Linked DNA regions of Homo sapiens: regions 2, 3, 4 and 5 are each reported to be linked to region 1. Evidence: microRNA targets listed by miRTarBase, many of them from high-throughput screens and not tested one by one. Region 1 holds a microRNA gene; each other region holds the end of a gene's coding sequence.
What was found. Region 1 holds the annotated microRNA hsa-miR-3941 (UUACACACAACUGAGGAUCAUA, at 2,581-2,602, shown strand). A microRNA usually pairs through its seed, bases 2 to 8, with sites in the 3' UTR of a target mRNA and lowers its output. Matches are read on the target gene's strand: a 7mer-m8 pairs with bases 2 to 8, a 7mer-A1 pairs with bases 2 to 7 and ends in A, and an 8mer does both.

Region 2: miRTarBase lists PCNX1 as a target of hsa-miR-3941. Seed matches in the 3' UTR shown: 7mer-m8 at 3,688-3,694, 7mer-m8 at 3,226-3,232, 7mer-m8 at 478-484 and 7mer-A1 at 428-434.
Region 3: miRTarBase lists PPP1CB as a target of hsa-miR-3941. Seed matches in the 3' UTR shown: 7mer-A1 at 4,380-4,386 and 8mer at 2,793-2,800.
Region 4: miRTarBase lists TOB2 as a target of hsa-miR-3941. Seed matches in the 3' UTR shown: 7mer-m8 at 3,306-3,312.
Region 5: miRTarBase lists GASK1A as a target of hsa-miR-3941. Seed matches in the 3' UTR shown: 7mer-m8 at 1,109-1,115, 7mer-m8 at 1,119-1,125 and 7mer-m8 at 1,425-1,431.

The regions. Positions count from the first base shown.
Region 1 is chr10:122,414,444-122,419,550 of GRCh38, forward strand. MIR3941 (microRNA 3941) reads left to right here and starts at 2,522; the gene lies at 2,522-2,624. It overlaps PLEKHA1 (pleckstrin homology domain containing A1), which reads left to right. Exons shown (of 12, transcript NM_001001974.4): 7 at 1,416-1,559; 8 at 3,457-3,525.
Region 2 is chr14:71,109,240-71,114,346 of GRCh38, reverse strand. It overlaps PCNX1 (pecanex 1), which reads right to left. Exons shown (of 36, transcript NM_014982.3): 35 at 4,755-4,895; 36 at 1-4,552. The coding sequence ends at 4,412. Among named protein-coding and RNA genes, the nearest start is that of PCNX1, 200 kb to the right of the region's middle.
Region 3 is chr2:28,798,920-28,804,026 of GRCh38, reverse strand. PPP1CB (protein phosphatase 1 catalytic subunit beta) reads right to left here. Exons shown (of 8, transcript NM_002709.3): 8 at 1,087-4,828. The coding sequence ends at 4,724. Among named protein-coding and RNA genes, the nearest start is that of SPDYA, 9.4 kb to the left of the region's middle.
Region 4 is chr22:41,432,173-41,437,279 of GRCh38, forward strand. It overlaps TOB2 (transducer of ERBB2, 2), which reads right to left. Exons shown (of 2, transcript NM_016272.4): 2 at 1,322-5,107. The coding sequence ends at 4,139. Among named protein-coding and RNA genes, the nearest start is that of TOB2, 12 kb to the right of the region's middle. RefSeq lists an enhancer at 4,724-5,107.
Region 5 is chr3:43,055,589-43,060,695 of GRCh38, forward strand. GASK1A (golgi associated kinase 1A) reads left to right here. Exons shown (of 5, transcript NM_001129908.3): 5 at 588-2,127. The coding sequence ends at 798. Among named protein-coding and RNA genes, the nearest start is that of POMGNT2-AS1, 28 kb to the right of the region's middle.

The sequences.
Region 1 (5,107 bases):
TAAATTGGACCTCATCAAAATAAAAAATACTTGCTCTATGAAAGACCTTCTTAAGAGGATGAAAAGAAAAGCTACAAACTGGGAGAAAATATTTGCAAACCACATGTCCAACAAAGGACTTTTATCTAGAACATAGAAAGAACTCAGAACCCAACAGTAAAAAGCCCAAGAAATCCAATTAGAAAATTCATGAACAGATATTTCATCAAAAGATAAAAGATAAACAGATGGTAAGTAAGCACATGAAAAGATGTTCACCATCATTAGCTAGCAGGGAAAAAATACAAATTAAGAGCACAATAAAAGATCACTGCACACCTCTCAGAATGGCTGAAATAAAAGTGACGACACAAATGCTGCCAAGGTTGAGGAGAAACATAATCTCTCAGGTGTTGCTGGTGGGAATGAAAATTAGCCACTCTGAAAAACAGTTTAGTGTTTATGTTTTGTTTTTTTTTTAATAATAAAAGTAAGCTTGTGATTACTGTACAACCCAGCATTTGCAGGACTAGGTGTTTATCGTAGAGAAAGGGAAAATTACATTCACATAAAAACTTGTGCATGAATGTTGATAGCAGCTTTTTTCCTAATAGCTAAAAGTGGGAAACAACTCAAATGTCCTTTAATGGGTGAACAGTTAAACAACTGGTCATCCATCCATACCATGGAAATATAGCAATAAAAAGGAATGAACTCTAGATACAAGGAACAGTCTGGACGAATCTCTAGAGAATTATGCTGAGTGAAAAAAGATAATCTCAAAAGATAACCTTCTGTATGCTTCCATTTACATTACATTTTCAAAATGTCAAAATTATAGTCTTGGAGAACAGATTAGTGGCTGCCAGGGGATTTAGGGGTAGGAACTCTAAAGTTCACAAAGGAGCCTTGGGGTGATGACCAATTCTGGGTCTTAAATGTGGTAGTAGTTACACAGATCTACACATGTGATAAAACTGCATAGAACTGTATAGACACACATAGATGAATGTATGTAAAACTGGTGGAATCCGAATAAAGTTTGTGGGTTGTGCCAATGTCCATTTCTTGTTTTTTGATAATGTTACGCCGTTTCCCTTTGAGGGGAAACTAGTGAAAGGGTACATAGGACCTGTTGTACTTTTTTTGGGCAGCTTCTGGTGAATCCTTATAATTATTTCAAAATAAAAAGTTAACTCCTTCCCCAAAAAAGAGCACTGGTGGCAGGACTTGTGCAAAACAAGAGGAATGGAAATTTGTGCTTTAATCAGTGACAGGAAAATTAAGAGTAAGTATCTCAGATTAATTAGAAAACTCTTCAAAAATCTGTTTCTGACTAATCTAAGGTGGATTTTAAGATTTTCTACTGGGATAATATGAAATAAAAGTATGCTAAACAAGCAAGAAAATAATTTATTTATTTTGCTTCATTTTAGAAAGAAGAAGTAAATGAATGTGGTGAAAGTATTGACAGAAATAATCTGAAACGGTCACAAAGCCATCTTCCTTACTTTACTCCTAAACCACCTCAAGATAGTGCGGTTATCAAAGCTGGATATTGTGTAAAACAAGGAGCAGTGGTGAGTAGCTTAACAAAATACATGAAATAATGAAAAAGGATTACGTTCTAGCAAACTCAAATTAACATGGAAATTGTTTGCTTTATTTTATGAAAGACCCAAAGTGAGAGACCGGCATGCTGAGGAGAGTCAGGAGATAAAATAGGGGATATTCTCTGTTTATAATTCAATGCTGTTATTTGCTTGGTTTGCAGGGGGCCAGGAAAGTTAATGCCCATTACCACTGACTTTCAGTTTAAATGAGCTTTCCTAACAGTTTAATGTTTTAGAAAGTGTTTCTATTCATCTTTACTCATACTCAGGAGTGGGTCAGGGAAAGAGAGCTGTTGTGGGGAGATGGCAGGCCAGCGGCAGGAGAAGGAGTGGTGCCTAGGAGGTCTCTTCCTTGTTTAGGCATTGGCCTGACCTCCGTGGTAAGCTCTCTGACCTTGGGCTACTTACTTAACCTCTCAGGCCCTCAGTTTCTGTCTTAAGGAATATCATATAAAACCTACCATCTAGGGTTTTGTTTTGTTTTGTTTTTGTTTTTTAAGAGATGTAAATAAGAAAGGTGTGTTTCCCTTTGCACAGCACCTGGTACTTAGTAAAAGCTGTTATGGGTTAGCCCAGGTATTCCCATATAATCAGTTCCATGATGAATTTTTTGCAAGAGCAAGTAAATTTACCAATATTTCTAAGGTTGCAACATACCTTAGTATCTAAGCCATTCTTTCTATGTGAACTAAATCTTTAGAATTTCATGAGAAAATTAACTTTAAAGTTTGAAAATGTTTTTTAAGTCTGTGAGTAAAGAAATACTTAAAATTATTTTGGTGGTTCTGTTTGACTTCTCATCACTTTTTGGCAACTCTTAATTTTTTTAGGGCAGCCAGGGGAATGTCCTTTCACCTGTTTGACCTGCTTTAGGCTGAGGAAAATGATGGTGAGGGCAGGGGTTTCTTACTGTACAATGTCTGCAGGTAGAGTCAGAATTCTCATCAGGCTGTGATGCTCAGTTGTGTGTAGATTGAAAGCCCTAATTTTACACACAACTGAGGATCATAGCCTGATGGTTCCTTTTTGTTTTACTCTTAAGTCCAAAATACCAGTCAGAGATATTTAAGTGCTTCTGCAAAAACTGTTATTTTATTGACAAAAAATATTTGTACAAAATAGGTTTACTTTATTAAATATTTAGTGCTTTACTACTATGTATAAAGTACTTGTGGAAGAATTCATATGTTTTTACAGATGGAGAAACTTGATGTGGTTTAATAACATTTCCTGTGTTTGCTCTTTACATGGGGTTGGCGGGGGCGAGGAGTAGGAGGAAGGGGAAGTGCTTTTAAAAAAAAAAAAAGTTTCAACATTAAAAATATGAAATAGGCCAGGCATGGTGGCTCACGCCTGTAATCCCAGCATTTTGGGAGGCCAAGGTGGGCGGATCACCTGAGGTCAGGAGTTTGAGACCAGCCTGACTAACATGGTGAAACCCTGTCTCTACTAAAAATACAAAAATTAGCTGGGCATAGTGATGGGAGCCTGTAATCCCAGCTACTCGAGAGGCTGATGCAGGAGAATTGCTTGAACCCAGAAGGCAGAGGCAGTGAGCCGAGATCGCGCCATTGCACTCCAGCCTGGGTGACAGAGCAAGACTCTGTCTCAAAAAAAAAAAAAAAAAACACATAAAATCATACAATAAAAGATGAAAGCCAGGCACCAGAAATTGAATTAGGAATTCAAAGCCTGGGTAGCTAGAGAGGGATGAGGTTTAATTTATCGCATCTCTAAGGGAAGTAATGAGATTTTTCACTGCTTGGCATGTCTGATTGTGGGTTCATATCAGGGTAATTAAGTGGTGACTAACATTTGACATTCTTAGAAACACAAGTCTTATGTCTGTGTTCATCTCTGGTAGATGAAAAACTGGAAGAGAAGATATTTTCAATTGGATGAAAACACAATAGGCTACTTCAAATCTGAACTGGTATGTTGTTACGTCATAAATGTTGCTATAAGAATGTTTGAAAAGTGTTGCAATGTAGTGATTATATATAATTTCTTGTACTGTTCTGTAGTTTCAGAATAAGTCTAGTTTTTAGAGGTAAATATAGTTTATTTGGTTGTGATGCTTTTGGTTAATGATATTTTTCTTAAATACATTTTTAAGTAAAAAGATCCTATCTTCAAAGCAGCATTCCACCTTGAAAGATCTGAAGATCTCAGAATCCTCTAGTCTATAAATTTCCTCTAAAGGGGCTGTCCTCTTGGGGGGTTAGCCCCACGTGGAGTAGGGAGAGAAGGGCATCCACATGGGGAAGGGGTGGTGGCAGAGATGGGAGAATGGTCACATACACAGTGATTTATAAAATCAGGAACTATATTAAGTATAATAGAAGCCAAGTCTTTTCAGAGAAACAATACTTTTTGGTGAATGAATGTATATCTGTATATATGATGAGGAATGAGATATTTACATAGTTTCAAAGTACCTATCTACTAAAATAGGTATTAAGTATTGTACAAGGGGAAAAAGAGTAACATTACAGTGAGGAAAGTGGTGTAAAGAATTCTGTCTGTAAAAGTCAATATTTAACCCTCTGTATTTCTTTCTCTTGAGATTTTCTTTACCTATTTCACATTGACTCATAAATCACTTCACATAAGATGTTTTTATCTTCCCTGAAGGTAGAATCAGAAATTGAAATTCCCTCTTCGCCTTGTTTGAGTTGCATCCTTATTTAAAATATTGTAGGGTGATCTGAGTCCTGAAATAGCTTATTGGAGACATTGAATGCAATTCTGTAGTATAAATGTCTATCCTACGTCTTCTTTTTGTATGGGATCTTTGAGAAGGGAACTTATACTTTGTTTGAATGAAGTCACCAGAACAGCATTGTCCATTAGAACTTTCTGCACAAATGGAAATGTGCCGTATCTGTATTGTCCAAGGGCACTAGCTACATGTAGCTGTTGAGTGCTGGAAATGTGGCTAGTGTGACTGAGGAACTGACTTAATTTCATTTTAATTAATTTATATTTACATCATTACACACAATGGCCACTGTATTGGCCAGCAGAGCACTAGTGTATAGGAAGGGGATATTTTAAGATTCACCTCAGGAGTCAGCTCTTCTGGGAAGCTTTTAGACTCTGGGTTAAGTGTCTTCTCTTTATATGCCCTGTGGTACCCTATGCATACTTGTATCATAATGCTCTTCCCAGAGTTTTGCAATCACGTGCATTCTTGTCTTTGCAACTAAATTAAATGAGCTTCTTAAGGGTAAAGACTCTTGTAGTCTTTTATGATCACAGGGCCTGGCACTTGATAGACAATAAGTGTCTTTGAATGAATGAAAAATGGCATAGCATAGCAAGAAATGCCATTTTAGTATGGGGCTTTCTCAAAGCTTAAGAGCCTCAACTGGAAGTAGTAGTTACTTGGTTCAGAAAGTACCTGCCTTGTTGTCTCAGGAGGCTATCCTTGTGCTTGGTTAGCAGGTTGTCTCATAGATTTTATTTAAAGCCAATACTCCCGGGAAGAGTCATTCATGCAGCAGACATTCATT
Region 2 (5,107 bases), not on the chromosome of region 1:
CTAGACAGACATTTAACAAGTAAAAATAAGACGGCCTGGGTGCATATCAATCAACCAAATTAAAAACAAACAAAAAAGATAGATAAATGGAGAAAACGATTGGCTTTTTAATACTTATTTTTAAAAAGCCATATTCAATGTAATATTAGAATTATGCTGTCCCAATGCATGGTAGTATCTAATTTTTTTCTTCCTCAACACCAATGAAACAATATCCATGTAAGACTGAAACAGAATGTCCAACCTCCATTAGCAAGTTCCATGTACCACATTAGCCTTGACTGACGTTATTATCTCCACTAATCTCTGAATTAAAGGAAAAGCCTCTAGAATAAAAAGGGACACTTTATACCTTATCTAAACCATGTATCCTATCAAAAGAGAAAATTAACTGGGTCTCTGTCCAAAGTAACTTTATATGATTACATTACACAGAAAAAGAATACGAATGAATAATGACGACTTAAAAAACAAACATACACACACACACACACCCCAGAAAAGGCTTTGTCCATATTCATGACAAATTAATTAAAATAAATATAAATGAAATTAACAATCTGGACAGCAGTTTATGGTTAAGTAGCTAGTAAATATAAATTCAAAGAATTCTGACAAAATCATTATTACCTTTTTCTCAAGTCACATATTTATTTAGGAGGAAAGATGCTTGAAAGCTAGCTATAAGAAAAGGACAACTTTAGACACTGGGTGAATCTTCAGCTTAAAAGGCCCAGTGCTGGATGAATGACTCACAACAGCAATCCACCAAATGCAGAGCTGCTAAGCAGAGGCAGAAGGATGCTGCTCAGAAGCACAGAGGAATTTATCAAGGCTATAAGCTAAACTTGCTGAAAAATGTGAGGCTGATTTTTATATTTTGGTATGTGATGGAAAAATAAACTAATTCAGAAAGAAAAACACATCTTCTTAATGGGTTTTCTACACAAAAACTTACATTTTCATTGCCTGACATTTAGTATACAGAGTAATTTTCCATATCTCACTTAGGATACAAATATTGTCTGACTACTTCTGTTTTAAGAATTATAAGTAGTTCAGATATACTTGAAATATTTTCCAAAATACTTCGAATCTAATAGAAATAGATTATCATCCTCCAGTAACAAAGTCAAAGAAGGCAGAACACTGGTTAAGTTTGTTCACTAATTTCCTAAAAGGTAATCTCTTAAAAAATATACATACAGCCTCACCACTTACTCTTCCAAGTTCCTTAAATATCAACATCTTATGTTAATCTAGATTCTTGGAAAAATTAAAGTTCTTTAGCAAAAAGTCAACATTAAAGTTTTATCCAGTGTTGAAAATGGTGTAAAAAGAGAGTTCACACCAAGGTATAAGTTGGAAGATTAACCAAAAACTTAGGAGTTATAAAATGTTTTTTGCCACTGAATGAAAGAAATAAAGGAAAAAAAGGCAATAATTTATAACTCATTCCACGATTACCTTTCTCTCAAAAGAGGGGGTGGCGGAAGAATTAAACAAGAAAAAGCAAAGTTTTCAATCATACAACTCCACCAAAAGGAAATGAATAAAAAAGCTAGTATTTTAGTTACATCTTTTAACTTTCAAATTATGGAAATTAAAGCATTGGCAAATTTATAAACTAAAGACATTAATGTATGCTGAAGTCTTGTACATAACTGAAAAAAAGCAGAGAATCTAAACGAGTCACTCACTATTCTCTGGGGGGTGAGGGGTGAGGCAGGAACAAGAATTTATGATCAATTTAGTTAACACAAGTATGTTTATTTCCATATAATAATTTAGATCAAATTATTCTTAAGAAATGGATCTTTCTTCAATTATCACCAATTCCCTGATGCAATTACTAGAAAAGTATTATGATTTTTAAAAGATTGTCAGTTTTAGACTCTTAAGAAAAACAACAGGGCTTCTTCTCAGGGTTCCTAATTTATAAATTCACTAAAGAATTATATATGTTAACAAAATTCAACTTGTTTTGAGAAAAATATATGTCAATTGCTACCCAAAATCAAAACCCAACATATATGTTCCATATAAAGTCTAGTCTTGCATTTGAAATCTGACTTTTCAGAGTATGTGATGTGTTTAAAATTTTTTTGGAGGAGGGGCTAGAAATTAAAAAATTCTAGCCCTTCAGATTAAATCATGTAAAGGTCAGATTTTTTTTCTGTGTGGGAAAATGAATTATCTTCCATCTAAGATTGAAAAGGCTCTACTTTTATCTAGGCAATGACCATGAAAAGATCATATTCACTTCAGAAAGGGAAGAAGCAGCAGGGAACATAGTTCCTTTCAGAAGATTTTAAAAATATACGTATACAGAGAAATAGATTATAAATTCAGTTTCAGAAAAAAACCCTCCAAAACCAAAAACAACACTAAACTTTAATGGCATACTGTAGATCTGCCAAAATGAGGCAAATGCAGAACATAATGACGGTATCACAAAAATACATTTTTAAATGGTCAATTTAGAAAGGGTACTTTTGTATAAAGGTTCAGTAAATCATTTGACAAGTATTTTTAAACAGTAAATTTTGTAAAGTGTGAAGTCTATGGAAATGTCAACACAAGGCACATTAGGTTCTGAATGACCACAAAAGTTTAAAATTAGAAAAAGGGAAAATAAATAGGTTTTAAAGTGGAAATGCAGTAAGTTCTGTATGTTCACTATTTACTTTCTTAGTTTTCATTCCTTCTACTGTAATGTTATGCTATAATGTGAGATCTACATCAGAATTGGTAGGAAAAACAGCTTCTCTCTTCTGTCACCTCAACAAAAGATACTTTAAATCTGTACTGTCTAATACAGTAGCCACTAGGTACATGTAGCTATTGAGTACTTGAAATATGGCTAGTGACATATGATGAAATAGTAATACTTTGACTATACTGGGTGAAACAAAATGTATCATTAAAATTAATTTTACCTGTTTCTTTCAATGATTTATTCACAAGGGGTAGAAAGATGGCTGCTCCTAAATGCTCAGAGGAGATGTACAATTTTCTTTGGAGTTTCACACCAAAAGGGAAAATTTTATCAAGGATTTAAAAAATGCTAAGAGTTGCAAATTAAATCTAAATTGAAGTTCCTATATCGCCCAATTGTAAATATGAGTAATATATTTCCCTGAATATGCATTTAAAAAAAATAAAGTTATGAGACAACATATGAATTAAGTCAATTTCACAGTTATAAATATTTCAATTTACAGCTACACACTATAAATTACAGGAAATAAAATTCAAGTAACAGAAAAAGAAGAGGGGAAAAATAAAAAGCAAAATTATTAAAGAGGGATATAATAATAACTGCACCACTTGGATACTTTTATTTGAAAAAAAATTTTACTTGACTAACTGAACTGCATGTGAATAACTTCAAGAGCTAGAAACTCATAAATAAAAGGCAATCGATCCTTTCTTTAAATTCCTGGACATTCATCTTCTTCTTAAAGAAAATTGTTTTCTTCCCAGAAGCACGCCCAGCAGAGCTTGCTCTGGTGGAGAGAAGCAGAGCACATGGGCTCCTCTGAGATGTAGACACAGGAGCTGGCAGTGGTGTTCACAAGACCGATCCGCTGACTATTGGCTCTGGGAAATGTCAATGATGAAGCTACGTATATCTTGAGATTCTATATTCACTTTAAAGAAAATACCCAATGTCCTGGCATGAAGTACACACTACTAACAGAAAAATGAGCAGCACAGTTCCTGCTACCTGTGTTTATAAGGAAAGGGAAGGGGCTAATCCCAAAGGCAATTTAAATAATGGTATTTTATTTTTATATATAAATAAATGTTCTGAGAAATCTCAGACTTTAGTGCATTGCTGTAAAAAATTAGTGCAGTTTTTTTTATTAAAGTTTTTAGCGCTCAAGGAATAAGATAAATCTATGTCTGTTCATAGTCTCTTTCACTGTACATTAAACTTTTATACTGCTATAAGTCAAAAGGAACATTTCTACACTGGTCTGTTCTTAAAAATCAAGGTAAATGAATTTCATGTTCTATGACAAAACATGGCAATTATTTTTGGCAAAGAAATTAGAAAAATATGAGATCATAGTTTAGAAATGAAGAGTTTGTTGATTTAAAGCATAGGCAATGCATAGGAAAAACTTTTTTTAAGGATGTATTTTAACAGAACTTTATCCTTCATGCAAAATGTTTTCTCGGCAGCTAACTTAAAAAAATATTTCAGCTTTATTTGGGGATGGAGACAGTGACAGGAGTCAGGGTGAAGGGCAAAGGAGAGGTGCTTAACCAAGCTCATTCTATTTTCAGTCGCTCCCACATAGGATCAAAGTGATACCTGCAGGCATCTTCTGCTTGTTCCTCTCTTTTTCCAATGCCTTGGAATTGAGAGGGAAAAAGAAATGTCTTTATAATAAACACTGGCTCACACTTCAGCCCCAAGTTCTAGTACCCCAGTTTCAATTACAGTCACATATTTATCATCAATCTGGACCAGAAGCACTGCCTTGTCGATGTGGGATCTGGTACCTGGATCTCTGCTGCAAGGCACCCATCGGTGAATCACCTAATGATTCAGAATAAAACAAGAAGTTAGCACTGGAGACCTGGAATATACTCACAAACTCTTACCCCTACCTAGGATTAGTAGTAGCAATTTTGTCTGAAAATTATACGTTTAAGTATAAATCAGCTAAAACCATGCATCCAAGTGAGGCGGACTTCAAAAAAGGCAGAGCCCCAGACCGCCAGCTTGTAAAAGAACTTACATGGCCTTCCATGCCCTCCTGCGGACTCCAGTCTTTCCAGCTATTTCTCCCAGCTTTTAACCGGATTCCTTCATCAGGCCACTGTAGCTCTTTCCTTTTAGACAGGTTGATCCCTTCCAGAATTTGACTGGGATCCACAATCTACATGGTAAATAAAAACATTTCCAATTCATTTTTTTCTTGATGATGAAAAATTATGTAATCTCAAACAAAATGCTTTTCACAGAGAGGAATTACTTTTTAAATTCCTATAATGGAATAAAAAAAAAATCTTAAGAGCTACATCTTGAATTCTTTTCAGCCCTCTGGTAGACCTCACTGCAATGTCCATGAGACAGTGGCTGAACAAGGAA
Region 3 (5,107 bases), not on the chromosome of region 1:
GAGACAAAGTTTATATTTATTCAAGAATGGAACAGGTGTCAGTCTGTCAATAACCTGCTGGTAAACAGCAGCACTGTCAGAAACCATGCCAATTATCAGTTTGAGTTATACATATATTGGAGGTAGCATTTCAACACTCTGGTTTTGTTTCTTTGGCTTTTTTTTTTTCCAAAAAATATACTAGGAGATTTAAGACTTACTTCAGATTAAACTTGTTACATTAAGAAAACACTCTTGGCCGGGAGAGGTGGCTCACGCCTGTAATCCCAGCACTTTGGGAGGCCGAGGCAGGCAGATCATGAGGTCAGGAATTAGAGACCAGCCTGGCCAACATGGTGAAACCCCGTCTCTACTAAAAATACAAAAATTAGCTGGGTGTGGTGGCAGGCTCCTGTAATCCCAACTACTCAGGAGGCTGAGGCTGGAGAATCGCTTGAACCTGGGAGGTGGAGGTTGCAGTGAGCCAAGATCATGCCATTGCACTCCAGCCTGGGAGACAAGAGCAAGACTCTCTCTCAAAAAAAAAAAAAAGAAAAAAAGAAAAAAAGAAACTCCTCTGGACTACTTTTTTCTGTTGCACTGTATTACTTGCCTTTGTGGTTTTGTCGAGAATCAGTGTTTACATGATAGACCATAAATTACTGTGCCTTTTAATAAATTTGTACAATAATCTATGAAAGTTCTAGATGTTTAGCTGTGATGTCACTGGTTTTGTAGGAAAAATTTGGCCTGTAAATCTGCTGAATCATTCTGATTAGGCAGCTGTAAAAATTAATACATATTTTAACTTGCCGATCCTATGCCAGGCTTCACTGAAAAGCCTCCAGGAACAGACCTTAGGTTCCCACCTTTTTGCATATAGTATCTGAAAGGAATGCTGAACCTATTAGCCTCAGGCCGTTAGTTTGTTCTCTCTTACACACACACACACACACACACACACACACAAACCCTCCCCACCCGCACCCCCTGTTCACTTGCTATCTTCCACCCTGTATACCCCAAACAATGTGGTGTTGTAAGTAAGATTTCATAATCACATAAACTAGCAAAGATCCCTAAGAGGAAAGAAGCAAAGATTTATGGTCATTTTTGTAAAAATAAGGTTTAATAAAACATCAGCAATCTGCATGAGAAGGTAAATTACAATGAGAAACTTAAAAAGCTTACGGTCTAAGTCAACCAATGTAGAAGGTAGTGGTTGAAGAAAACAAGCTTTGACTTTTAAAATTTCCTAACCAGGGGATTTATTTAGAAATTCTGGCATTCAAATGTACATGTAAAATCCAATTTAACAGATCAAAATTGTTACACTAAGTTTCACTTAGTATCTAAGTATCCAATCACAATTGTATCTAAGTTTCACTTTTAAGAAACATTATAAAGGTAATTAAAACTCTAGGTGTATACTTATATGGAACTAGTTTATTTCCTATTTAACTACTGTTCATTGCGTAAAGTATGTTGTCCCAATTTTCAGCTGTTTTAAGGAATTATAAAACATTGAGATCTACTAGGAAGAGGGAAAGCCTACTTCTAAGTGATGCCACTAGTACAATCAGGCTTGGATTAAGTCTCTTCTCAGGGGCAGCTTTGATTTAGCCATGGACTCACAAGGAAAACAAGAGGTGGATTTGGTTAGGGAGCAACAGCAAATTCAGCCCGACCATATTCCTAATCTAAACACATTTTCAGCATAAAGATGTAAAAACAATTTTTTTTGGTTCAAAAGTTATGGTTGCCATGGAGACAAAAAGAATATACCTGAATTTATAAACTGAGATATATTTCAGCTCCTTGGCTTAAAATAATACATCTTTATATTCTTGAGACATATCTCAAGATGTTCCTTGCTTTGCCTTGAATAAAAATTTTTTTGAAAAGCCTATGTTTCTCGTGAACACACTCATACTTCAAATTTACCACCTATTTTAAGCTTTAAAATTCTTCTTGCCAGCATTTTTCAGCTAAAAAAAATCATTTCACGAATGTTTAGGTACTTTTTACAATGAAGGGATATGGCAGCATGGATACTGGGTAGCTGGCTAGGCTCTAAATACCTGATGACTCAACGCTTTGCACAAACCAGTCTTGCTGATTATTAAAATTTGTCCCTGGGCAAAATTAAAGCAATGCATGTTAAGGCTTCAAATGCAAAGGATTCACTGTAGTTGATTCTTTCAAGAATAGAAATCGACCATAACTTTGCTTTATAATCCATGTGATACACCACATTATAACAGATATCTACTGTGTTTCATGATTTCTGAATGTCATAACATTTGGATTAAATTGTATACAAAAAAATCACTAACCTGAAAAAAATCAGAGGAAAGAACAATATAAATTAGTGACACTGGAATTACAGAATCATTTTCTCCTAAGAAACAAAGTTTTATTTATTTCAAGTCGTGTTGCCAAGCAAATATTTGTAAAGAACACATTTTTATGACTGGAGGCTGTTTAAGTGGTTTTAAGAGTGCTTGAATAATTTTTAAACATGATAAATTTCCATCCTTTAAATTTAATGACCAATATTAATTAGCTTAAGTAGTGATTATTTTTTCACATTTAGTCTTTAAAAAAAAAAAAAAGGATTCCTATTAACCAACATACTTAGTCTTGACCTGGATGAATTTACAAAAGCCAGACAATGGGATACAGATTAATGTGGTTTAATACTGAGATTAATCAACATTGCCCTTTTTCCCTGCCAAAGGCTTATTTTCTAGACCTGCTTCACTATGACTACTAAAAGTGTACAACTAAAATTTTATTAGAAATCGCTCAGCTTACACACTCCAATCAGGAAGTTATTTAAATCACCTCAGATAAAACCTTTGTGACCTAACCTAATACATCATATGCAGATCATGAATACTTTCAGAAAAGAATCATTTCAATATGTCAAGGACATAGTATCTATGTGAATAAAATGTGTGCTTAAATGTCTCACTGTAAGGAAAAAAAAAATCAGTCAGGCTTCATATCAATTAGACAACTTTTACTAAATGAGAAAACTACATTTAAAATGTGCTTTAAAACAAAACGGAATTAGAAAAAAAGACATATGCATTTTAAAGAACTTTTGCACTGTGCTGAAAATGAAATATCTCTTGCAGTAAGTAATACAATGTGCCAATTCATAAAATGTAAGTTAACAGGTTTCTCAATTTAACATTTTCAAAGACGATATTAAGGTCAAAAATGTCACATCTATGGTAGCACATATAGAAGGGCATTATAGATATGATGTCCATCCCTATGAAGCTTACAAATTTGACAATGCTCAATAAAAGCTTTTAGAATCACATCCAATAGTGTCACAGTCAAAGAATCACAAATCTGTGTCCTGTAAGTTCTCTCCTTCTAAAATCTTCATGTTAACTTTTCTACTCATTGCCATTTGTTAATACTAACCCTTAAAAAAAAGAAATAGGAAAAGAAAGGCTGCAATAAACTTGATCAGGTACAGAAATTATTGCTACTATACTTCACTACAAAGCTTGTCTATACAGTATCATATGACCTTTGATTATGAAAAAATCAGAATAAAAATCTTTAGTGACATAAGCCTTACAATCGTATACAACATTCACATGGCAATATTAGACAGTTAAGCACCCAATACCCATAGTTGACAAAATGTCCCACTGACCAGCATTCATTTAAATACATCCTTCGTATAGAGGGAGGAAAAAGAGACAGTGTCAGCTTTCCAAGGCTTGTCAAAAAAGGATTCTCATGTACTGTGGATCTAAAAACAAACAACAACTCAAAAAAAAAAAAAAAAAAAAAAAGAAAGAAAAAAGAAAAAGAAAACCAATGCAGGTGAAGGTGTTACCAGGAAGTTAAGCATGCCAAAAGGTGTTCCGTGCGAATGAAAACCTAAAGCCAAGGTACCACATAATCACATTACCAACTAGTTGGGTAATACTATATGAGCCTTATCTTAAATGAAATGCTACTGCACAATAGAGCATCAATAAGTTAAAAATTAGAGTGCACAAATCCAAATCAGTGTCAATTCCTGTATAAAGCAAAATATTCACTATCAGCTGTAAAGTTTGCCCAGTCAAACTGTATGATTAAAATCACTGGATTGGACAATGTGCGTATTTTTTTTTAAAACAATCAATCTCTAAAATTCCTTTTTAATGTAATGAGGCGAAAGTTTTCTTAGTAAGATTAAACAGATATCTAAGTAGATAAACAAGGGAAAATAATAGTTGGTGAATGTCTGTAAAGCTCTTCCCATATTTCACTTTTAAAAATGTTTAGGGAAAAAAATTAGAAGTATTTGCCATTATTCTAGTGAAAACAAACAAAAACAAAACAAGCTCAAAATAATTAAACAACCAAGCAACACTAAAACCACATTACACAGATGGATCATCATGCTTTCATCTGGTTTAACTATCACATCTAGTTTAACTGGGATGCTTTTCAACTTTAAAAATTGTGATACATGAAGATGTAACTTTAATGGATAATTTTGAATTTGGATTTAACTTTGTTGACTATAACAGAGTATACTTATTACAATACAGTGTAGCACATCTTTCTATTAGAAAAAAATTTAAGATCCTTTACCCGTCTCCTTAAGTTAAAGGTGTGACATCATAAAGGGTGTCAAATGGCTGGATGGTTTTACAGTGCACACTTATATATTATGAAGTATGTCCTTAACAAATCTGATGGTTTCTTTACAGAATTCCTTTCTTCACCTTTTCTTCGGCGGATTAGCTGTTCGAGGTGGAGTGACAGGACGTCCAGAATTCAGTCCACCATACTGGTATTTAGCTTTCTTTTCAGATGGTTTCAATATCTTAAAGTAAATTATTAACAAATAATGTTATTTTTTCATGTACAGAAGTTAAGAAAATTGTTACAATTGTGATTTTCAATAAATGGCATAAACTGCAAAAATGCAATAAAAATGTAGAATAGCAAAGTTCCATAAACATTTCTTAAAGTGTGCAAATGTCTGAACTTTGTCATTCCACTCATATTTTAATAACAAAAGTACACTAACTCTATCAACTATCCAATCCTTAGATTTAAGTAAAAAACTTTTTGAACTTAGTGTATCTCTGTTGTGAGGAAA
Region 4 (5,107 bases), not on the chromosome of region 1:
TTCTATAGCAGTTATAATTGTATCAAATGCATGTGAGATGTCAACTCTGGGAAGGCAGACACTGTCTGATTTATTCTCCAGTGGACAAGAACTGACGCTGCCCAGTATCACTTGGATCAATAAATGAAAAAATCAGACACGAGTCAGAATCTTTACCATTTACTAGTTTTATGAGTCTAGGGTAATCTAAGTTGGAGCCTATTTCTTTTTTGTTTGTTTCTTTGAGACGGAGTCTTGCTCTGTCACCCAGAGCAAGTGGCGTGCAATGGCGCGATCTCAGCTCACTGCAACCTCCGCCTCCCGGGTTCAAGAGATTCTAGTGCCTCAGCCTCCCAAGTAGCTGGTATTATAGGCGCTCGCCACCACACCCAGATAATTTTTGTGTTTTTTGTTTTGTTTTTTTTTTTTTTTTAGTAGAGACGGGGTTTCATCATGTTGGCCAGGCTGTTCTCAAACTCCTGACCTCGAGTGATCCGTCTGCCTCGGCCTCCCAAAGTGCTGGGATTACAGATGTGAACCACTGCACCCAGCCTATTTCTTAACTGCAAAATGGAGACAATCCCTGTGAGGATGAACAATCCCTGTGAAAATTCAACAGGATGAGGAATGGTGGCTCACGTCCATAATCCCAGCACTTTGAGAGGGAGGCCAAGGTGGGAGGTTTCTCTCCTAGATGGGCAGCATTGATAGGCACAGGCCCTGGGAAGGGGAAAATATGGCCCGGGCCACTGGGAGATAGCAGAGCTCCTAAGGAAATCGGCCACTGGCAGAAGGGTGGCTTTCTCTGGGCTGGGCTGTCTCACTCTTAAGGCAGCTCCGAAATTGTCCAGCCCAAGAAAAGGGTTGAGAATCCAAGCACCGGGCTTTTGGATGGAACCTGGCTTAGGCAAGCTGTTCTCATCCTTGCCCACATCTAAGGATCTAGTACTAAGGATCAAGTACTAGATCTAGAGTAGGCTGGAGGCTGTCCCCGCTCTCCTCCCCCCAGGAATAGACAATTCCTAAAGAGCCATGAAGTACCCCGTTCTCCAGGCTCTGCTGCCACCACCAACTGGCTAAGGGAACTGGAGCGGTTTCTAACTTTGTGGAACCTGTTTCCAGTGTAGAAAAGCATCTGCGGTAGCAAGCACAATGATGTATCCTGTGTTGATGGGATGGATAGGTGGTCAAGAAGGGGCACCAGGACAGTTATGTCCATCCGAGGCTGTCACTGTAAGGAGGACCAATCGTTTCTTGGAGTCTGTAAGGGCTGGGCCACTCCCATTCTCTCCATCCCAAAAGGGACCCCAGAAACCAAGCAAGCCAGGAGCAGGCAGAAGGCTATTATGTATCATGCTTTTAATACAAACTTAAAAAAATCTGGAACAATAGAAACTGTACAGATTTGATCAATCTTTTTGTTTTGTTTTTAAACTAAAATCTCTAAACACACCAATGTCCCATTCCAAAATATTGCACAACATTCTGAATACAAAACCCTTGATTGTATTCCTCCTTCACTAAAGAAAAAAGTTCATGACCCTGCTCCCCGGGCTCCTCTCCAGGCTTGCCTCAATGCCCCCTTCCCATCCCTAGGGAGAAAACTAGAGAATCTATAACTCACTGCATTGAGAAAAACACATCATTCTGGACTAACAGTTTCCATTCTTCAGAAGATAATCCACCTTTTGATTTGTTCCTGGGAAAGAGGGATAGATAGAGGATGGGGAAAGGGGAGAAAAGGTTTTATTTCTCCTCTTTTTTTTTTAAAGTTTGTTTTTCCTGAAAAAATATGTTTCTCTCATCTTTTTAAGAAAAAATCTTGAAAAGAAAAAAATTATGTTTTTTACGTTAGAAATATACATATATTATATACCTCTTACATTTTACAAATGTAGCAAATTATTCAATACAAACGGACACCAAAAAATGTAAAAAATAAAAAAAAGTTTTCCTACGAAACCAGGTAAATTAGTGCAGATTTCTGTTTTTGTATTCTTAAAAAAAATAAAATTGAAGCAAAAATGCCTAGATTTGAGACAAGACAGACTGAACTGGGCCCAAGAGCGCAGCACTGGAGTCATGCTCCTGAACACACATTTTTCTTCGTATTTCAAAAGACACAAAGGGGTTGGTCTCCCCTCTCTCCCTACATGTGAGAAACAAGCCGACCTGGTGTGGGTGGGTGCCTGTGTGTGTGGATGGGAGGAGGGCTAGAAGGGGATGTAAGGCAGCATCCAACCTTTCCCAGAGAGAAGCTATCTGCTGGGTCTGTCACCTGTGTGGGAGCCGAGGATGAGGGAAACAAAGGGTGGCCCAGACTGGGCTGGCCCCTGAGAAGTCTAGGGGAACAGATGGTGCTGGGCTGAGAAGCCAGGACATTGCCTGCCGGGGGAGGTAGAGCTGGTGCCTACTGCAGGGAGAGGAGGCTGGCAGTGCTGGCCTGGGCTGGACCCACTGCCATAACAGTTGCCTACTTGGGGTCCCTGGGTAGGATGGAGTGGGTGGGGTGCCAGGGGCTTTGGTGCTTTCTGGTGATTGGGACCCTGATGCCAAGTGCCCACTTTGCAAAGAAGAAAAAGTTAATGACCCTGCTCCCTTGGCTCCTGTCCATGCTTGCCTGGCCTCCTAGAGTTGGAGGAACAAGCCCTCTCCTGGCAGAGGCAGGAGAGCAAGTGCTCTCCTATGATCCAATACATCAGGCGGGAGTGCTGAGTCCGTCAGGACACCACTCCTCGCAGCATCAAGGTCCAGTGGGGTTGGGTCAGGGCAGTGAGAAGGGGTGGCAAGAGGTACCAAGAAGCTCTCAACCAGGCAGGGGCACAAATGCACTCAACACCTCCAAACTAAGAGACCCCAAAGTCTCAACTCCAGGCTCAGGGCTGCCCCCGCACAGACACTAACTCTAAAATCCCACCCTGCCTCTCTGCCCACCCCCAAGGGTGCTCAGGTGAGCAGCTCCCTCTGGGCTAAGGCCAAACAACAGGAGGGTTGAAGTCCAGGGACTTCTCATAGGCATCAGGGGCTTGGGTATTCCCTCTGCCCTTCAGAGCTAACTTATTATTATTTTTTTGGTCAAAAACAAAACTGCAGATCCTTCCACAGTCTGCAAACCAGTTCCTTCTGCAGTGTTTTCCTCTGGGAGTGTCTTGGGCTAAGCCACAGCGGTGTCACCCCACCACACACACTGCCCTGCAAAAGGACTGCCAATACCCCCAGCCCATTCCCCAGCCTCACATATAAATAAGGACTTGCGACCCAGAATCACATCCAGAAGGGAAGTTTCACATGGCTTGGAATCCTTTAAAAAAGGACAGCAAACCAAATACACACACACACACCCCTCCCTACCCACAACATCCAGCCTGGGGAAGAAGGGGCTGCATGAGGGAAAGAAAGCCCATACACATCAATGGCCAGGGCCATGATGATGGTCTGGGCCTAGAGGGAATGGTGGGGTGGGGCCATAGGACAGAGATGAAAGGAGTTTCACTAGACGAAGTGCTAATCTCCCTGTAGTCACAGACATCAGCTCCAGGGGGAGGGTGTCAAGTGGCCAGCCAGCAACTCCCTGTGGCCCAGCCTGAAAGGGAGTGGGGACTGGGGTCAGACCTATTCAGGTGGCAGGGCCCGAGAAGGCCTGCTGAGGTTGGATGGCTTTGAGTGCGAGGATAGCTGGGTGACAGAGGCAGTGACACGGGCCAGCCTCTCCCTGTTCCAGGGAGGGTCAGGCTCCAGCTGCAGCTCTTTCTTCCCTATGAGCTTGGACACATCAATCCTAAACTAGGAGTGTGAAGGAGGAAGGGAGGAGCAGGGAGCAGCAGTTCACATCTGGACCATTCTTAGCACAGGAAGCCACTCATTAAAGATGTTATATAGAAAACTACATGTAAGAAAAAAAAAAAAGAAAAAGAAATATAAAACCCAAACCAACCAAATAAATCACAGGCCGGTGGGCGAGCGGTAAGGGGTGAGTGAAACACACTTGGGTGCTTTGCAGGGCCCTCCCATTCCGTGCCTGGGCTGGATCTTTTTTCTAGAAGTAAGAGTGAGAAGATCGAAAATCTTTTTGTACATTTTTCTTTTCCTCTTTTTTTTGGCCTTTCCTTTCTCTTTTCTGTGGTCTTGGGTGCTCCTGGCCCCACGGGCAGGTAGATGGTCAGTTGGCCAGCACCACGGGCTGGAACTGCTGGCTGGGATACTGCATGGTGTTCAGGTTGTAGCTGAGGCCTTCCACAAAGGGTGTCTTCTCCAGGAAGAGGCTGTTGGCACCACCTCCAAATACCTGGGCCATGTCAAAGCTGCTGCTGTTGCAGGTGCCAGCCCCACTGCCTCCAAACGGGCCTGGGGTGCCGCTGCCCTGGCCATCGGCCGCATCAAAGAAGAGGCTGGGTGAGCCACCACCGTTGTACACGAACTCCTTGGCATTGGGTGAGAGCTGGGACTGAGGGGCCGGGTTGGCCGTGATGAAGTTCAGTGAATGCATAGACAGAGAGAGGCTCTTGTGCTTCAGCAGGCTGTTGGTGGGTGAGCGGGCCATGCGAGGCTGCTGTGGTGGCTGCTGGCCACCCGCCCCACTGCTGGCTACACCCCCACCACTTGCTGCCCCGCCCCCCTTCTTCATCTTAGTGGAGCCAAATTTGGTGGCAGCGAAGGAGGCGGTGGTGAAGGTGATGGGCTGAGCGGAGCGGGGAATGAAGGTAGGGCTGGGTGACTGGCCAAAGGATGGCGATGGGGAGTTGGACAGGGAGCTGTCCTGGCTGCCAATGGGCACGAACACCTGGGCGTCAGGGTTGAAGCTGCTCTTGATCTCCTTGTCCAGCTCTGGGGCACCGCAACCCTCACTGTCATCCAGGTACAGCACTTTCACAGCTCCCTTCTCACCAATCTGGTAGGACACCTCAAAGGGATCAATCCAGACACTCAGCTCCTCAGGCACATTGGCCCGCACATCTTCCACCGCCAGGCCACTCCGCTTGGCGGCCAGCTCCACCACGGGGTCCACCATCTCCCCAATGTGAACACAGCGGAAGCCAGAGCCTTTCAGTGGCTTCTCAGGGTACCAGTGGCCTTCATATTTCTTTTTCAAAAGCCGCTCTAGCTCCTCCCCAAACAGGTCTGCCCGGCG
Region 5 (5,107 bases), not on the chromosome of region 1:
TGCTGCAAACCTTGGGACCTTCAACTGTGGCCCTGAGAAGCCCACAGTCCATCAGACAGAAGTTATTGGATCAGAACTTTAGGCGGTGGTGGGGAGCCCTGGGAAAGCTGAGAGGGGATACAGTTGGCAGGGCCTACCCCAATATCCAGAGGGCCTCGTGCCTGCAGAATACTAGCTGTATTGCTGGGGTGTGGGAAGGCTAGTCCTTCCCTTGTTCTGGGTGAGAGAGCTAGGCCAGAGAGTCTACCCCTCCCAGCTCACTCTTGGCAGGCAGCTCTGCCTTCCCAGGATTCTTTCTGGCCCTGCATTTGCCAAGTGGAGCCTGGGATAGCGGAATTTATTCACCTGGCTTCTCTGTAGGATGGGACCCATCTGAAAGGTCTGTCCCCTGCCTTCACAGCAAAGCCAGGCAAAGGGTCCTCTGTTAGTGAGATAGCAGGTGCAGGTCTGGGGAGTTTGCCAGGTGACTTTACCAGAGTTCCTCAGCTATGCAAGCTCTGGCCATCTGGCATCACCTGTTACTGAAATTCTCTGAGATTACTGTTGCTTTTTCTTTCTGTTACGGGGCTCTGGGGCCTTTGCTCCAGGTTTCCTGAGTCTGCCGTGAAGGTTCTCGCATCAGGGTGTCTACAGAACATGCTGCTGAAGTCGCTGCAGATGGACCCAGTGTTCTGGGAAAGCCAAGGCGGAGCCCAGGGGCTGAAGCAGGTCCTCCAGACCCTGGAGCAGCGAGGACAGGTGCTGCTGGGACACATCCAAAAGCACAACCTCACACTCTTCAGGGACGAGGACCCATAAGCCGCACACAGCCCTGAGTCAATGAGCATCCATCCTGATGGCCACATTTTCTTGGGCTCACTCATCTTGAGGACAAATGGGAAAAGCCAGAAGCCAGAGGGGCACAAGGATGTCACGGGATATTTCACCTGCCTGGGATGGTGGAGGTAGTATGGGGTTTTCAATCTCAAAGCGTCCCTTTCTGCCTTCTCGGCTCTGGCTATTTATTCCCTTGCACCAACAAATACATTCGAAAATGTTCTGTGAGCTGCTCAAGAAACTGTAAAAATGTGTGATGCACGTGCATATGCAGAGTGGGAGAACTTTGTGTGTGTGTAGAGGTGTGTAGGTGTGGGTGGCATGTGTGCCCGCCTGCATGCAATACCTGAGACCAACCTAATAAAGGTACAATCTTCATAGAACTGCACTTGCAGCCTGGAGTTGCTCTGGCTGAAAGTAGACTCAGGCTTAAGAAATGAAACATAATGCGTTTGTCTTTATAGACTTTAAATTTTCAATTATTACTCAGTTATGTTTTTGGTTTAAAAAATTATAAAAGTCTAAAAGTAATACATGCTCAGTAAAAACAAGTCCATAAAAAATAGAAGCATATGACAAAAAGCATAAGTCCCACAAACTCCCTAGCGGTGTGTATGTGTGTGTGTGTTATTCATGGTCACACTACATGCAAATTAAAAAATGAAAGTGTGGTCATGCTTTGTCAACTCACTATATTTTTACTTTATTAACTATATTCTGTATCAGCCATCTGAATTGACCCAATCTTTATTGGTGACTGCATGAAATTCCAAGGCAGGGATGTGTCATATTTTCTTTAGCTGGTCCCATAATCATGAACATTTAAGTAGCTCCAATTTTTCATCAATTACAGACATTGCCGCCATGAACATGATTGCATGGCGTGCAAGTATTTCTGCGAGGTAGATTTCCGTACGGGATTTCTGGGGCAAAGGGTATGGGCATTCAGTATTCTGAGAGAAACTGCCAAATTGCTCTCTGAAATGGTGGTGTCAATTTACATTTCTCCCAAGAGGGTAGGAGACTGATTATTTTTCTACACCTTCACCAACACTTGGCATTCTCAGACTTTTGGGTTTTTTTTGGCCTATTTAGGAGGAAAACCGATTTTAAAAGCTGCATTTCCTTAATCATGAATGAAGTCATCTTTCCACTTATTTGCCAGACATTTGTATTTTCTTTTCTGCATTGTCTTTTTGTTTTAAGATGTTTGCCCTTTGCTTGTTAATTTGTTGGAAATCTTTGACTCTAATAAGTGTGATCAATCTTTTCTCTGCTGACTTGGTATAAATGTTTTCTTCCAGCCTCTAATTTGTCTCTTAACTTTGTTTATAGTCTTTTGCCAAGTGTAAAATGTTAATTTCCACGTAGTCAAATTTGTTTATCCTTCCCTTTAAGTCTTTTGAGTTTCATGCCTTCTTAGAAAGGCTGTCACCACTTCAAGATTATTGAAATAATCTGTGTTTTATTCTAGTATTATACAGTATTTCTTATATATTATATAGTATTTCTTATATATTTTCATATATTTCATATATATTCCCTCTAAATTAATATATAAAACCTATATTTTATATGGATTTAAGCAGAGAATGGTGTGAGTTAGGGATCTAACAAGTTTCATTTCCCTTCAAATGGATAGTTAGTTGCTGTAACATTATTTCATAGTCCATTCTTTCTTTACTGCTGTGAAAGTATACTTTTATCAGATATTAGGTTCCCACATGCACAGAGGTCCATTTGTGAACTCTGTTCTGATATTATTTTTCAGTTCCTGCATTAGTATGACAGTGTTTTAATTAAAGTTACTTTATTCTTTTTTGCTGTCTGGTAGGCTGAGTTCCCATATTTTTATTCTACTTTAGTTTTTTCCTTTGCTATTTTTGTGCATTTGTCTTTCATGTGATAATGTCAGTCTATGAAGCATGCCACCCCTCTCCTTTTATCCTCAAAATCCCATTGGTGTTTTGATTGTGATTATATAGAATTTATAATTAGTGGGAATCTGACTTATTTGAATATTGAGTGCTCTCATTCAGGTTTATCAATCCACCTATTCTTTGATAATCTCTAGCAACATTTTTTTGTTTATTGAGACAGGGTCTCACTCTGTCACCCAGGCTGGAGTACAGTGGCAAGATCTCAGCTCACTGCAGCCTCAACCTCCTGGGCTCAAGTGATCCTCTCACCTCAGCCTCCTGAGTAGCTGGGACGGCAAGTGCACACCACCGCGACCAGCTAATTTTTGTATTGTTTTGTAGAGATGGGATTTTGCCATATTGCCCAGGCTGGTCTTGAATTCTTGAGCTCAAAGCATCTGCCCATCCCAGCCTCCAAAGTGCTGGGATTACAGGCATGAGCCACCGAACCCGGCCTCTAGTAACATTTTAATGTTTTCTTCAGCAAATAAGCTCATTTTAAAGATAGTTTGCAATTTCTACTCCTATTGAGAATGAGTTCTTTTTCTTGATTAGATTTTTCTAGATAGAATTTTAGGTGCATATCTTATAGTTTTTAAGTAGAAAATAATATTTTCAAATAATGATAATTTTACATTTATATTTCATAAGTGTGTGTGTGTTCTCCTCTCATTTATTTCTATTGTCTTATTACTTAGGTTGGGAGCTTTCTGGAGGAAAATTGAGTAATAATAGCAACAATAGTAGGCATCCACATCTTATTCTGGACTTTAATGGGAACACCTCTGTGGTTTCTATTATGTTTTGTCAGGTTTAAAGAAATCATTTCTGATAAATATCTTTCATTAAGTTAAGGAAGTTTCTTTTTATTCTTAGCTTACTAAAACCATTTTTCAAAAATCAAGAATGGGGATTGAATTTTATTAAATGCTCTTTTCAATATCTATTGAGCATATAGTTTTTCTCCTTTATTTTCTAATGCTGAATAATCTTTACATTCTCAGAAAAAACCTATTAGGCTGAGGTATGTTAGTATTTTGGGAACTGCAGAATTTAACTTGCCAATATTTTACTTAGAATCTTTGCATATACATTCATAAGGTTTTCCTTTTTGGGCACTCCATGGCTGTCTTACTATTAAATTTAAACATACCTCATAAAATAAATTCAGAATTTTATTTTATCTTTTTAATGCTTTGTAAGAGTTTAAATAAGAACCATTTATTCCTCAAAAGTTTTATAGCACTCTCCCATAAAACCATCTGGGCCCTGTGCCTTTTGCTAGATCTTTTACAACCTAATGTAGGAGATAGGTAACAGGGGCCTGCAATAAACCAACATGCCTGGCATATTCAGTGGGCGTGGAAATGTAGAAGTGTCCTGGGCAAGACTCAGGCCCTTGGAAAAGGGAGTTTGGATTTAGAGATTTCAGGCATTTCTCTTAAGGTCACCAATGTTTATTTGACTTTGACTTTTTGTCTTTTCTCCTCTCTTCTTCCTGTGTTCTCAGTTCTTTCCAAGGATACCCTTATCAAGTGATGCTGTTCCTCTAGGCCTCAGCCAGTTTCTGTTTAACAGTCTCTGCTTTGCCTTCTGCCTGGTAGACCTACACTCAGCCAGAGGTGGGAGTGAGACACTTGTCATCCTAGAAAATGGCAAGAAGAAAGGAATACAAAGAAACATTTCATTGCAAAACATAATGTGGAGCTCTCACATTAGGATGAGGCTCATTCTACTTTGTGACTTAACCAGCCGCTTTGAAATAAAACAGATCTAATCCTGTCTCACCACCGAGAGACTGACATGCAAGTGGACAATGCCCAAACTACATATAATAATAAAACTCTATCCACCACCTCTGTAGCAACCAGCTCAGAGAACCAACCACAATGTCTGTAGCATCTGCTCAGTAGGGTGAAGACCTAGTCAGTGACTGCCAGCTTCCTTATTTTTGTCCCTACTTCCAACTCAGGATCAATCAGAGAAAGCCAAATATGCTCCCCTAACCAATCAGTTAGGATGCCCCACCTCTAGTTTGCCCATCTCCAGTGTCTCTCATGCCAGCAGCCTCCAATCAGGGTGCACCTGGAGCCTTCCCTTTCTTTCTCACTATAAAGCTTTCCCAGTCCCTGCCTGTCTTGGAGTCCCTGCCAAATGCAAGTGATGGTGCTGACCCCCTTGCCGTAGCAAGCCTCTGTCTGTTCTCCCTTGGGTGGTCTTTGTTGATTTCCATACTGCCTGGCTGTAAGAATTAAACAAAGTTAACTAGTAATCCAGGTGAAGGCACTGGCCCGGCAGCTGGAAGGGTAGGCAAACTGAGCCACATTCTGAGAGCAGGTTTCCTTTACACTGAAATGGGGCAGAGGTGGCCG